3 linked regions of the Homo sapiens genome follow. Changing the gene in region 1 together with any one later gene gives a genetic interaction. Each region holds a gene or a part of one and is shown on either strand. Other genes may lie near its edges. The genes, in order: MTOR, KRAS and CHEK1.

Region 1 (3,751 bases):
ACAGTGAGCACAAGGAGATCCGCATGGAGGCTGCCCGCACCTGCTCCCGCCTGCTCACACCCTCCATCCACCTCATCAGTGGCCATGCTCATGTGGTTAGCCAGACCGCAGTGCAAGTGGTGGCAGATGTGCTTAGCAAACTGCTCGTAGTTGGGATAACAGATCCTGGTAAGGCTTGCCAGACAGAAGGAATCTAGGGGAGTTAAGGAGCTTAGGACAATTGGGAGTAGCCAGTTTCATTACATGGCCTCTCTAGAGTTCTTCGGCTCAAAAAGCTGATATTCAGCTATTTCTCTGCCAAGGCGTGTTAGGCATGGCTACTGTAGCCTTTGGTGTAAGATAATCTACCTTTAATTCTTTTGTCTTTTACTCTTGTGAGTAGAGAAAAGAATGACAGAGGTTAGATGAGAAAAAGCATCTGGAATCTTCCCACTACGCTGATGGCAGTGGAGGTAGAAGCTGGGAAGGGCTGGAGTGATGGGATCATGAGGAAATGTTCAAAGGCTCCATTGCTCTTGCAGACCCTGACATTCGCTACTGTGTCTTGGCGTCCCTGGACGAGCGCTTTGATGCACACCTGGCCCAGGCGGAGAACTTGCAGGCCTTGTTTGTGGCTCTGAATGACCAGGTGTTTGAGATCCGGGAGCTGGCCATCTGCACTGTGGGCCGACTCAGTAGCATGAACCCTGCCTTTGTCATGCCTTTCCTGCGCAAGATGCTCATCCAGGTAACCGAGGTGATGGCCAGACCCACAGGCAGGGAAGACAGGACTCTCGCTGTGAGAACTGCTTGAGGAAGCGGAGTTGAGGACAAGGATGGGGGAGAAAGATTGAGGTACCTGGTAAAAGCCGCATTTGTCTGCAAAGGTCCAAATGTTTCCCTGGCTTTATAATGGCAGTTCCAGTGCTCATCACCTCATGAGCCCTTTGTCAATATGACTCTAAGGTGGTTCAGAGTCCTCTCATGCAGCTCTTTCTTTTTCCTGGCAAGTCACCAGTGATCCCATTTCTTGGCCCTCTTTGCTTGCTGGGTTGATCTGCTGCAGATGGTGTCAGACTTCCCAGCGCCTCCCTATCCTTCAGCTCTCCTGCTTTTCTTGCTGGTGCCAGGTCAAGCACGGAGGCCGTTGTTCTTCACAAAAATAACCAGTGTGAGACCGTTTCCACTATTTGTTCTAATAGTCATTGCTCCAGTCTGTGATCCTGGCTTTCGTTCTTAAATAATATGAGAATGCCAAGCTCAGCTGCTTGGTCTGTAGCGTAAGGTAGAATTGCTCTGGAGACATGGCTCCTCAGTTTTTGTCTTCACCTACTGAGTAAGATCTGTGGCCTCCTGGTGAGCAATACATGGAGTCCTGCCAATACACCAGTCCTGCCTGGTGAAGTTATTTCCACCTGCCTCTTGTGGGTCTCTATGTTGCTCACCCAGTCATTTCCTGTCCCCATTGCTCACTGTTTGCTTCCTGATCCTCCTTCATGGTTTGTTTTGAAGTAAACACTTTTTATAACATATAAGGAACTTAAACATAGAAAATCATTAATATATGTAACTCACTCTAGAGAAATGTTTGTTCACAATTTGTTATAAAGTGGCTGTAAATTATATCATCAGTCAACAAATTAGGAAGTTGTACTTATGTTGGCACTTCTATTTTTAGCGTAATGATTTATTTAACTGCCGGCCTGCGTTAGAAGTGCCTGCCATTTTAAGTCTTAAAAACATTCCTCAGTTATAGGAAGGAATAGAAATCATTGTTGAAGGCCGGGCGTGGTGGCTCATGCCTGTAATCCCAGCACTTTGGGAGGCCGAGGTGGCCAGATCACCTGGGGTCAGGAGTTCAAGACCAGCCTGGCCAACATGGTGAAACCCCATCTCTACTAAAAATAAAAAAAAAATAGCCAGGCATGTTGGCAGGCGTCTGTAATACCAGCTACTCTGGAGGCTGGTGCAGGGAGAATTGCTTGAACCCAGGAGGTGAAGGTTGCAGTGAGCCGAGAGCGCGCCACTGCACTCCAGCCTGGCGACAGAGCGAGACTCTGTCTCAAAAAAAAAAAAAAAAACGTGAAATCACTGTTGAGCCTGCCAGCTCAAATCATGCTAAATTAATTTGGCGTAGAAATATCTCCTAAACGGCTGAGTGCAGTGTCTCATGTCTGTTATCCCAGCACATTGGGAGGCCAAGGCAGGCGGATCACAGGAGCCCAAGAGTTTGACAAGACCAGCCTGGGGAACATGACAAACCACGTCTCTACAAAATATACGAAAGTTAGCTGGGTGTAGTGGTGCATACCTGTAGTCCTAGCTACTCAGGAGGCTGAGGTGGGAGGATCACTTGAGCCTGGTAAGTTGTGGATGCAGTGAGCCGTGATTGTGCCACTGCACTCCAGCCTGGGTGACAGAGTGAGACCCTATCTCAAAAAAAAAAAAAAAAAGGAAAAAATAAGAAATACCTCCTAATGAGAATATCAATATGTTCATTCTGTCAGCAGACTTTTTGACCACATGCTATGTTCCAGGTACTGCTGGGCACTGGGAATATAGCAGTCAACAAGCCAGGCGTGGCTGCAATCTTCTTTCTTTTTTTTTTTTGAGACACAGTCTCGCTCTGTCGCCAGGCTGGAGTGCAGTAGTGTGATCTTGGCTCACTGCAACCTCCACCTCCCAGGTTCAAGCGATTCTCCTGCCTTGGCCTCCTGAGTAGCTGGGACTACAGGCGCCCGCCACCACGCCCAGCTAATTTTTGTATTTTTAGTAGAGATGGAGTTTCTCCATGTTGGCCAGGCTGGTCTCAATCTCTTGACCTCATGGTCTGCCCGCTTCGGCCTCCCAAAGTGCTGGGATTACAGGTGTGAGCCACCTCGCCCGGCTGGCTCTAATCTTCTTAAAGCTGATATTAAGCTATCAGGCCATTTCATTTTTTCAATATTGCAGAGTGTGAAGCTCCTTTGAATGAATTTATGTACTGAATTTAGCCCTTGAAATGTTAAAATTACTCTTTTTTGTTTTTAAACTTTGATATAGATTTTTCCAAATTGAGGTGTACATTTTCATGCCTTGGTAAAGGCTTTGGTGTTTTGTTTTGTTTTGAGACAGAATCTCACTCTGTCACCAAGGTTAGAGTGCAATGGTGGGATCTCGTCTCACTGCAACCTCTGCCTCTTGGGCTCGAGCAGTCCACCTGCCTCAGCCTCCTAAAGTGCTGGGATTACAGGCATGAGCCACCGTGCCTGGCCGACTTTGGCCTTTCTTGCGGTCTTGGTCATCAGGGTGGGCATTGGTTATTGTTATTAGGATGCAGTGAGGCTCTCGGGCTCTAAGTGAACCTGGGGTTCTTTGGATTGGCCCCGCACTGCTGCAGATAGTTGGGCTCTGCTCCGTGAGGCACATTTCCTTGCAGTCAGCCATGTCTTCTTGGTGCTGCAGGTCTATTCTCAGTATCCCCTTCATTTCTTTTCCCTGTGGTCTGCTATGACTGGGGAAAACAGGCTGCCAGGGGAATCCAGAAAAATCGGGTTATTAAGTCAGTAACCTAAGACAAAATGTAATGTTAAATTGTAGACTCCTCTGGGTAGCTGAGTTAACCTGAGCTCTGTGACATCTGCTTTTGTCACTGCTCATCGATTTCCTTCTGGCAGCTTTATCCAGAAATCTGTCTATATTATGCTGTCTATGTCACCATGAGCAAGATATGCTGATTTGCTGGTGTCCTAAGGATGTCAGCTAGAACCAATGTGTTATCTCCAGTCAGTAA
Region 2 (3,751 bases), on another chromosome or scaffold:
CTAGGCCTGTTTGACTCCACAGCCTTCTGTACTCTTGACTATTCTACAAAAGCAAGACTTTAAACTTTTTAGATACATCATTAAAAAAGAAAACCATAAAAAAGAATATGAAAAGATGATTTGAGATGGTGTCACTTTAACAGTCTTAAAAGCAATCGTGTGTATAGCATAGAATTGCTTGGATTGGATAAACAGTGGCATTATATATTTTAAAAAATAAAAGTTTTGAAAGATTGAAGAATTTGGGCATTACAGTTCTCTTAAATCTGACAAAGCTGCATAAAACTATTAAAATAATCATTATTATACTATTTTATATTCTATTTCTTTGAGGGTTTAGTTTTCCAAAAACTACATATTAAGCAAATGAATCACTCAGTGGCTATGTCATATAATAACGAGTTAGCCTAGTTATAAGAAGTTTAACATTTTATTTAAGAACATTGTTACAGCATGTTTACTGTATAGTCTAGTAATAGAGGAAAAGACATTTGGGTGGGTGGTAGTGGTAGTATTTTTATAGAGGAGTTACCAAATTTCAGCTCTATTATCCAAGTTTACCCAGCTAATGGTGTTCGGAACCGGGAATTTGAGCCAATTCTGACTCTGTTGTCTGCTCTGCTCCTTCTTTTGTGCTGTGTCTTTGAAAGTCACCTAAAATTGTGAGGGAATGTAATTTCACCCCAAATTTAGAGTTTATGCACTTGTTATATTGAAAATGATTAACATGTAGAAGGGCTTTTAATGGAATAAGTGGTGTAGTAACTTCAGTGTTGCCTACCTAGAAATCAAAATCTTTCTAGTTGTCCACTTTGTTTTTTGAAAAAGTAATATGAAAATTATGTTAATGCTTTAATTCAGGTTTTTGTAAAATATTTTTTATCTTTACACATTTAACATACGTTTCTAAAATTATAGTCTGTTATATAGCACTTTGGGTCTAGAATTTTTCAGTAGTTTCTGTTTTACTATTATGATCTACCTGCATATTAACCTATTAGGTTATAGTTTTACTATACTTCTAGGTATTTGATCTTTTGAGAGAGATACAAGGTTTCTGTTTAAAAAGGTAAAGAAACAAAATAACTAGTAGAAGAAGGAAGGAAAATTTGGTGTAGTGGAAACTAGGAATTACATTGTTTTCTTTCAGCCAAATTTTATGACAAAAGTTGTGGACAGGTTTTGAAAGATATTTGTGTTACTAATGACTGTGCTATAACTTTTTTTTCTTTCCCAGAGAACAAATTAAAAGAGTTAAGGACTCTGAAGATGTACCTATGGTCCTAGTAGGAAATAAATGTGATTTGCCTTCTAGAACAGTAGACACAAAACAGGCTCAGGACTTAGCAAGAAGTTATGGAATTCCTTTTATTGAAACATCAGCAAAGACAAGACAGGTAAGTAACACTGAAATAAATACAGATCTGTTTTCTGCAAAATCATAACTGTTATGTCATTTAATATATCAGTTTTTCTCTCAATTATGCTATACTAGGAAATAAAACAATATTTAGTAAATGTTTTTGTCTCTTGAGAGGGCATTGCTTCTTAATCCAGTGTCCATGGTACTGCTTTTGGCTTTGGTTTCTTTCTACATTGAAAATTTCTCTTCAATTCTGAGCACATGTTAACATTTAGAATTCAAGAGGTGGGGATTTTTTTTTCCCATGGTTACATATATATATATATATATATATATATATATATATATATATATATATATAAAGAACAGGGCAACAAATTTTTGCGTTTTCTATTTCGGTAGTACTTTTAAACCATTATGTCATGTTTCTAGGTTAAACGTTGTTGTATTTGAAGAATTTTACTTTGGCAGAATTTTTTTGAGGATGTGTTTATTTCTGGAGAAAGGTCTCATTAAAGAAAGACAATACCCAGAAAGCCAACAGAAATTCTGTTACTCATTTAATGCATTTTTCTGACAAAAATTATTGCCAGAGAGAACCTGAATTTTGTTTCAAAAATCATCTTTGTTTTAAAAATGACTTTTTCTTCAGGTAAAATAAAATAATTTCAGTTGCTATTATTTAACCTGTTTGTATGAAGAGTTTAACATATAGGAAATGAATACATAAAGATAGGAAGGAATTAATTGTTATATGTAGTCATATGTCTCTTAATGACAGGGATACTTTCTAAGAAATACATTGTTAGGTGATTTTGTCATTGTGCAAACATCATAGAATATACTTACACAAACCTTGGTAGTATAACCTACTATACACCTGGGATATGTAGTATAGTCTCTTGCCCCAGGGATACAAACCTGTACAGTATGTAACTGTACTAATGACTATAAGGCAATTGTTAACACAATGGTAAGTTTTGTGTGTCTAAACCTACACTTGGGCTACCCTAAGTTTATATATTTTTTTAAATTTCTGTTCAATAATAAATTAACCTTACTTTACTGTAACTTTTTAAACTTTTTAATTTTTCCTAACATTTTGACTTTTGTAATACAGCTTAAAACACACATTATACAGCTATACAAATTTTTCTTTCCTTATATCTTTATTCTGTAAGCTTTTTTCCATATTTAAAATTTTTTGTTTGTTTTTACTTATTAAACTTTTTTGTTAAAAACTAAGACATGCATGCACATTAACCTAGGCCTACACAGGGTCAGGACCATCAATATCATTGTCTTCCACTTCCACATCTTGTCCCACTGGAAGATCTTCAGGGGCAGTAACACACGTGGAGCTGTCATCTCCTATAATAACATTGCCTTCTTTTGGAATACCTCCTGAAGGACCTATCCAAGGCTGTTTATAGTTAACTTTTTTTTTTTTTTTTTTTTTTTTTTAGTAAATAGGAGGAGTACACTATAAAATAACAATATAGGTGCTATACCATTATACAACTGACAGTGCAGTAGGTTTGTTTACACCAGCATCACCACAAACACGTGAGCAATGTGTCGTACTACAGTGTTAGGATGGCTATAACATCACTAAGCAATAGGAACTTTTAAACTCCATTATAATCTTATGGGACCACTATCACATATGCAATCTCCTGTGGACCAAAATGTCATTATGTGGTACATGACTGTACTAAGAAATTGATCCATCTATATTCCATCAATTTGTTTAGGGCTTTTTCTGGTTACATTTACCTGTGAGCCCAGAAAACCAGTTTTGTAGAAATTAACTTCTGTAATGCTAGGAGTTAAAAAAAATTGCTGAACAACTTTTACATTGTTAAACATTTAAAAACAAGCGTTCTAGAAGTTTATCAAATTTCATAAAGGTGCAAAAATGTAAATGTAAATCATTATCCAGCTAATATATATGTTGTATTTCCCTAGTAGGAGAGCATATGTACCTCTTCCTAGTTATACAAATTTGATATATAGTAAAGAAACAGTAAATTCTACTTCAAGTCATTTTGGGAGGATTAAAAACTGAATTTCTCTAGTTTGACCATTGTACAGATTTATCTGGCAATTTTACTAAAACCTGATTTATAGGTTAAACTTGGTGTATATCATATATCACTTTACTTTAGAGGAATTAAGATTTCACATAAATCCATTTCCAGGTTCCAAAGACCAGGAAGAGGCTTGGTTTTTGTTTTTCTTTTTACTGTCTTTACAGTCTCCTTGACTTTTCTTAGGAGAGAAGGTACTGAGAAAACATGATTCTAATATTTATTATTTTTTCTTCCAACATTTTCTTATGAAACATTTTCAAATACAAAATTGAGTTTTATTTAAAACATTTGCAAA
Region 3 (3,751 bases), on another chromosome or scaffold:
GCAGACATCATGCCACTGCACTCCAACCTGGGAGACAGAGCAAGACTGTCTCAAAAAAAAAAAAAAAAAAAAAAAAGAGTGGGACCCAAAAAAGCTGATTGAAAGGTCTGTTTGTAGGGGGTGTAGATGGGGATTAATAATGTGGGTTTCAATCTACTGTGATCTGGCTGGGCTGTTACATTGGGAAATCCATGATACTGATTTTTAGATTTTTATCTTTTGCATAGGTAAGATTCCCTTGAGAAGGCTTGCATATTCTCTTACTCAAGGATGTAAGCCAGGCAGTCAGCTTTCTGGGAGTAGAGTAGGGAAAGAAGTTGTAACAGGCTCAACCTTCAGTGGATAAAACTTAAACTTAATCCCTCCGTTTTCAGTAAGGTGCCCAAGCTTTTAACTGTGCCTAATGGTCTCCAGTTCACATACTGTGCATTTACCCTCTTAAATCTCGTACCAGCTTTGGGGAGGGACAGTTCCTTGGTTACATAGAAAGGGAAGGGATACGGGGATCTATTTGTTTTTTATGTAGCCTTTAAACCTACCCCTTTTAGCCCCATTTTTACCTCCACCTTCAGTTACCTGGTGTCACCAGTTCAACTTGAGCTTTTTCAGAGTTCTGTGATGTTAATTCTGCTTTCCATTGCTAGCTTTGGGATTCATCTTCATTACCTTTCATCTAAAGGCTTTCTGCTTTCCAAAATGTGTCTCATACTCTGTTCTTATGGGTTCTTTTAAATATTGGTATCCTTTACTATTAAAATATTTTAGTGGGCTTTCAGAAGAGAATAGAGGCTATTTCTATGTATTCTGTCTTTAACTGGTATTCTGCTGGAGTCTGTATATCTTTTTTTTTTTTTTTTTCAGGCTAAAAAGACTCCATCAGACACACAGGAAATTTGCAGGTCTTCCTCTTCGTATTCTTTGTTTTCAGCACACAGTGAGGAAACAAGAGAAAATGGGATAAATGATATAAAAACTTGCTTTTATTTTTATACCAGGCCCTGTGGCTCGCTTCTGTAATCCCAGTGACTTGGGATGCTGAGGTAGGAGGATCACTTGAGCTCAGGAGTTCCAGGCTGCAGTGAGCTAAGACTGCCCAATTGCACTCCAGCCTGGGTGACAGAGCAACACACCCTGTCTCCAAAAACAACAAACTGTAAAAAGATTACATGAAGCCTAATCTGTGATGTCATGATTCAAAACTATACACATAAGCATTTTAAGAGTTTTTTCCTTGATTTTTGTTCCTGACTTTGCTTCTTTAAAAGAAATGTGTGTTTTTGTTGTTGGTTGTTTGTTTTTGAGACGGAGTCTTGCTCTGTTGCCCAGGCTGGAGTGCAGTGGCACAATCTCTGCTCACTGCAGCCTCTGCCTCCTGGGTAGCTGGGATTACAGGCACTCGCCATCGTGCCCGGCTAATTTTTGTATTTTTAGTAGAGACGGGGGTTTCACCATGTTGGCCAGGCTGGTCTTGAACTGCTGACCTCAGGTGATCCATACGCCTCAGCTTCCCAAAGTGTTGGGATTACACGTGTGAGCCACCAGGCCCCGGCCTTGAGTAACATTTTATACTTGTTTCACTTTACTATTATCATAATAGCCAGTTATGCTTAGTGTTTGTATGTGGCCCAGTCTTAAGGACTAAGAAAATATATATGTATATATATAAAATATATACATATAAAAAAATATGTTTTTTTCCTACGGAATCATGCTGTTGCCCAGGCTGGAGTGCAGTAGTGCTCACTAACCTCTAACTCCTGGACTCAAACGATTGTTCTGCTTAGGCCTCCCAAGTAGCTAGGGCTACAGGGACACACCACCAAGCCCGACTAATTCCTAAATTTTTTTATTTGTAGAGATGGGGTCTCCCTATGTTCCCCAGGCTGGTCCTGAACTCCTGGCCTCAAGCCATTCTCCTGCCTCGCCTTCCCAAAGTGCTGGAATTACAGGCAGGAGCCACTGCGCCCGGCCAGTGCTGGAGAATGTAATGGAGATGATCCTGCCTATCCCTGAGTTCCAGTCTAGTTTACTGTCAGAGAATACTTATTTCCATTTTTCCTATTTTGTTCTTGAGTCTCTTTCCTCAGAATTTACTTTTCCACTTAAATGACGTACGCAGCTTTTAAATTTGCGTTGTAAGATTTATTTTGGCTCTCCCCGCCTGTTCTTTGCACATTAAAAATGAAAAAGTTTGTAGAACTAAGCTAAGCAGATGGTCTTCCTGCAAAAAGACCGGGCTGAAGTAAAGCATTGTTTTGGAGCTGGTTCACAGAAAAAAGGCAAAACTGGTTATCCTGACTTCAAGCTCCAACATAAACTGCTCGCTTTCTCCGGGAAACTTGCCCCGCCACACACACTTGACTGCGTGGCCAGTTCTTTCGAAGCCTCTCGCTCCCAACACGGAGTTCCTCCCATTTCTTCACAGTCGGCTCTCAGCAGCTGCTGCTGGTTTCTCGGCTCCAGCACCACGAGTACCGCACTCTGAGGTTTACAAAGCACTCTGCTTCACCGACTGTGATCCTCACAGTCCTGTCCGGTGGCCTCACGCAGGTGGCGGTGCAGCCTTTCAGGCCCAGAGCGGCCAGGAGCGAAGCCCGCAGCCCCGCCTGGAAGCGCAGCGCGGTCGGTCGCGCGCCCCTGAGGCTTGGAGGCCTGGGCTTCCCCCAGCAGCGCTCGAGCACCGCCCAGTCGAGCCTCACACCGGATGCCACTTCATATTTGGGCCCAGAGCTCAATTCGCGCCGATGCGGTCCGCCGTCCTTAAATCTCTTCAGCCAGGATCTCTCCCCGACTGCAAAGCAGCCCTGGGCGGGAGCGGCAACATCTCCACGTCACCCTTTTGGAGCCGCCGACATTCAGAGGGGCAGGACACGGGAACGCGCGCTGTCTTGCTTTACGGCGCGGGTGCGCGAGTTTGCGGCAGCGTGACGCCCTCAAGTTTTGGCGGGAAAAGCGCTGCATTTGGATTCCTGCAGTGGTGGGCAAAGGACAGTCCGGTGAGGAAGGGCGGCCGGTAGAGTAGGGAAGGTTTCTAAAGAAGGAGTTCGGGGTCTAGATTAGTGAGGGAGGGCATGGTGGGAGAAAGTTAGCATTGACTAGCGCAGGGGATTGGAGAGACTCCTGCGGAGGGGCGGTTTCGGAGGGTGGAGGAATGGTACCAGGAGGTTCCCGTTGTGGGGGCGGGGGCAGGAGGGACTAACCCGCTGCTAGCTAAGAACCCCAAGGAAGAGTCCCAGCCCTTCCTTTCGCCTCTGGGGGCAGTTTGGCCCCGCCCCGGCCTTTGGGACGGGTGGGGCTGTGGATGGGGATGGGAATTGGAATTGAGCAATTGGGAGGAGGCGCTGCCGCAGGCGTTTTCTGCCCCATACCGCTCCCTATATCCTCTTCCTCTCTTCCCCAGACCCCCACCTCTCCCTCCTCCTTCCCCAGTCGTTCGCCGGAAAGCATTTGTCTCCCACCTCTTCATAACAACAATTAATTTCCTCTGGGGCCTGAGGAGGGCAGAATTTCAACCTTCGGTGTGCTTGGGAGTGGCGATTGTGATTTACACGACAAAATGGTCAGGTTTAGAATAGTTGTTCGTGGTTGAAAGACTTGGATAAATGTGGATGAGATAGAAGGGGAAGGCAAGAGCTGTTAATTTTCGTGGGCAATCCTGGGGAGAGGCGGGGCTCAGTGGCTTCACTGGTGATCTTACACTCTACATCTTTTCTGGATTCCTGCCTTTTACAGCCGAGGTGCTCGGTGGAGT

Evidence for each region.
Region 2: changes in MTOR (region 1) and KRAS together harm fitness more than expected from each alone (negative genetic interaction), as found in Homo sapiens cells (3 studies listed by BioGRID, with this or other methods).
Region 3: changes in MTOR (region 1) and CHEK1 are lethal when combined (synthetic lethality), as found in Homo sapiens cells (2 studies listed by BioGRID, with this or other methods).

Annotation. Positions count from the first base shown.
Region 1 is NC_000001.11:11,234,819-11,238,569, reverse strand, and holds part of MTOR (serine/threonine-protein kinase mTOR), read left to right. Parts: coding exon 1-168; intron 169-521; coding exon 522-727; intron 728-810; exon of another isoform or gene 811-834; intron 835-3,751. UniProt on the Homo sapiens protein: Serine/threonine protein kinase which is a central regulator of cellular metabolism, growth and survival in response to hormones, growth factors, nutrients, energy and stress signals.
Region 2 is NC_000012.12:25,223,260-25,227,010, reverse strand, and holds part of KRAS (GTPase KRas), read left to right. Parts: intron 1-1,237; coding exon 1,238-1,397; intron 1,398-3,751. UniProt on the Homo sapiens protein: Ras proteins bind GDP/GTP and possess intrinsic GTPase activity. Plays an important role in the regulation of cell proliferation.
Region 3 is NC_000011.10:125,623,017-125,626,767, forward strand, and holds the start of CHEK1 (serine/threonine-protein kinase Chk1), read left to right. Parts: upstream 1-2,146; 5' UTR 2,147-2,744; coding exon of another isoform or gene 2,745-2,996; exon of another isoform or gene 2,997-3,556; coding exon of another isoform or gene 3,557-3,559; exon of another isoform or gene 3,560-3,626; intron 3,627-3,732; coding exon of another isoform or gene 3,733-3,751. UniProt on the Homo sapiens protein: Serine/threonine-protein kinase which is required for checkpoint-mediated cell cycle arrest and activation of DNA repair in response to the presence of DNA damage or unreplicated DNA.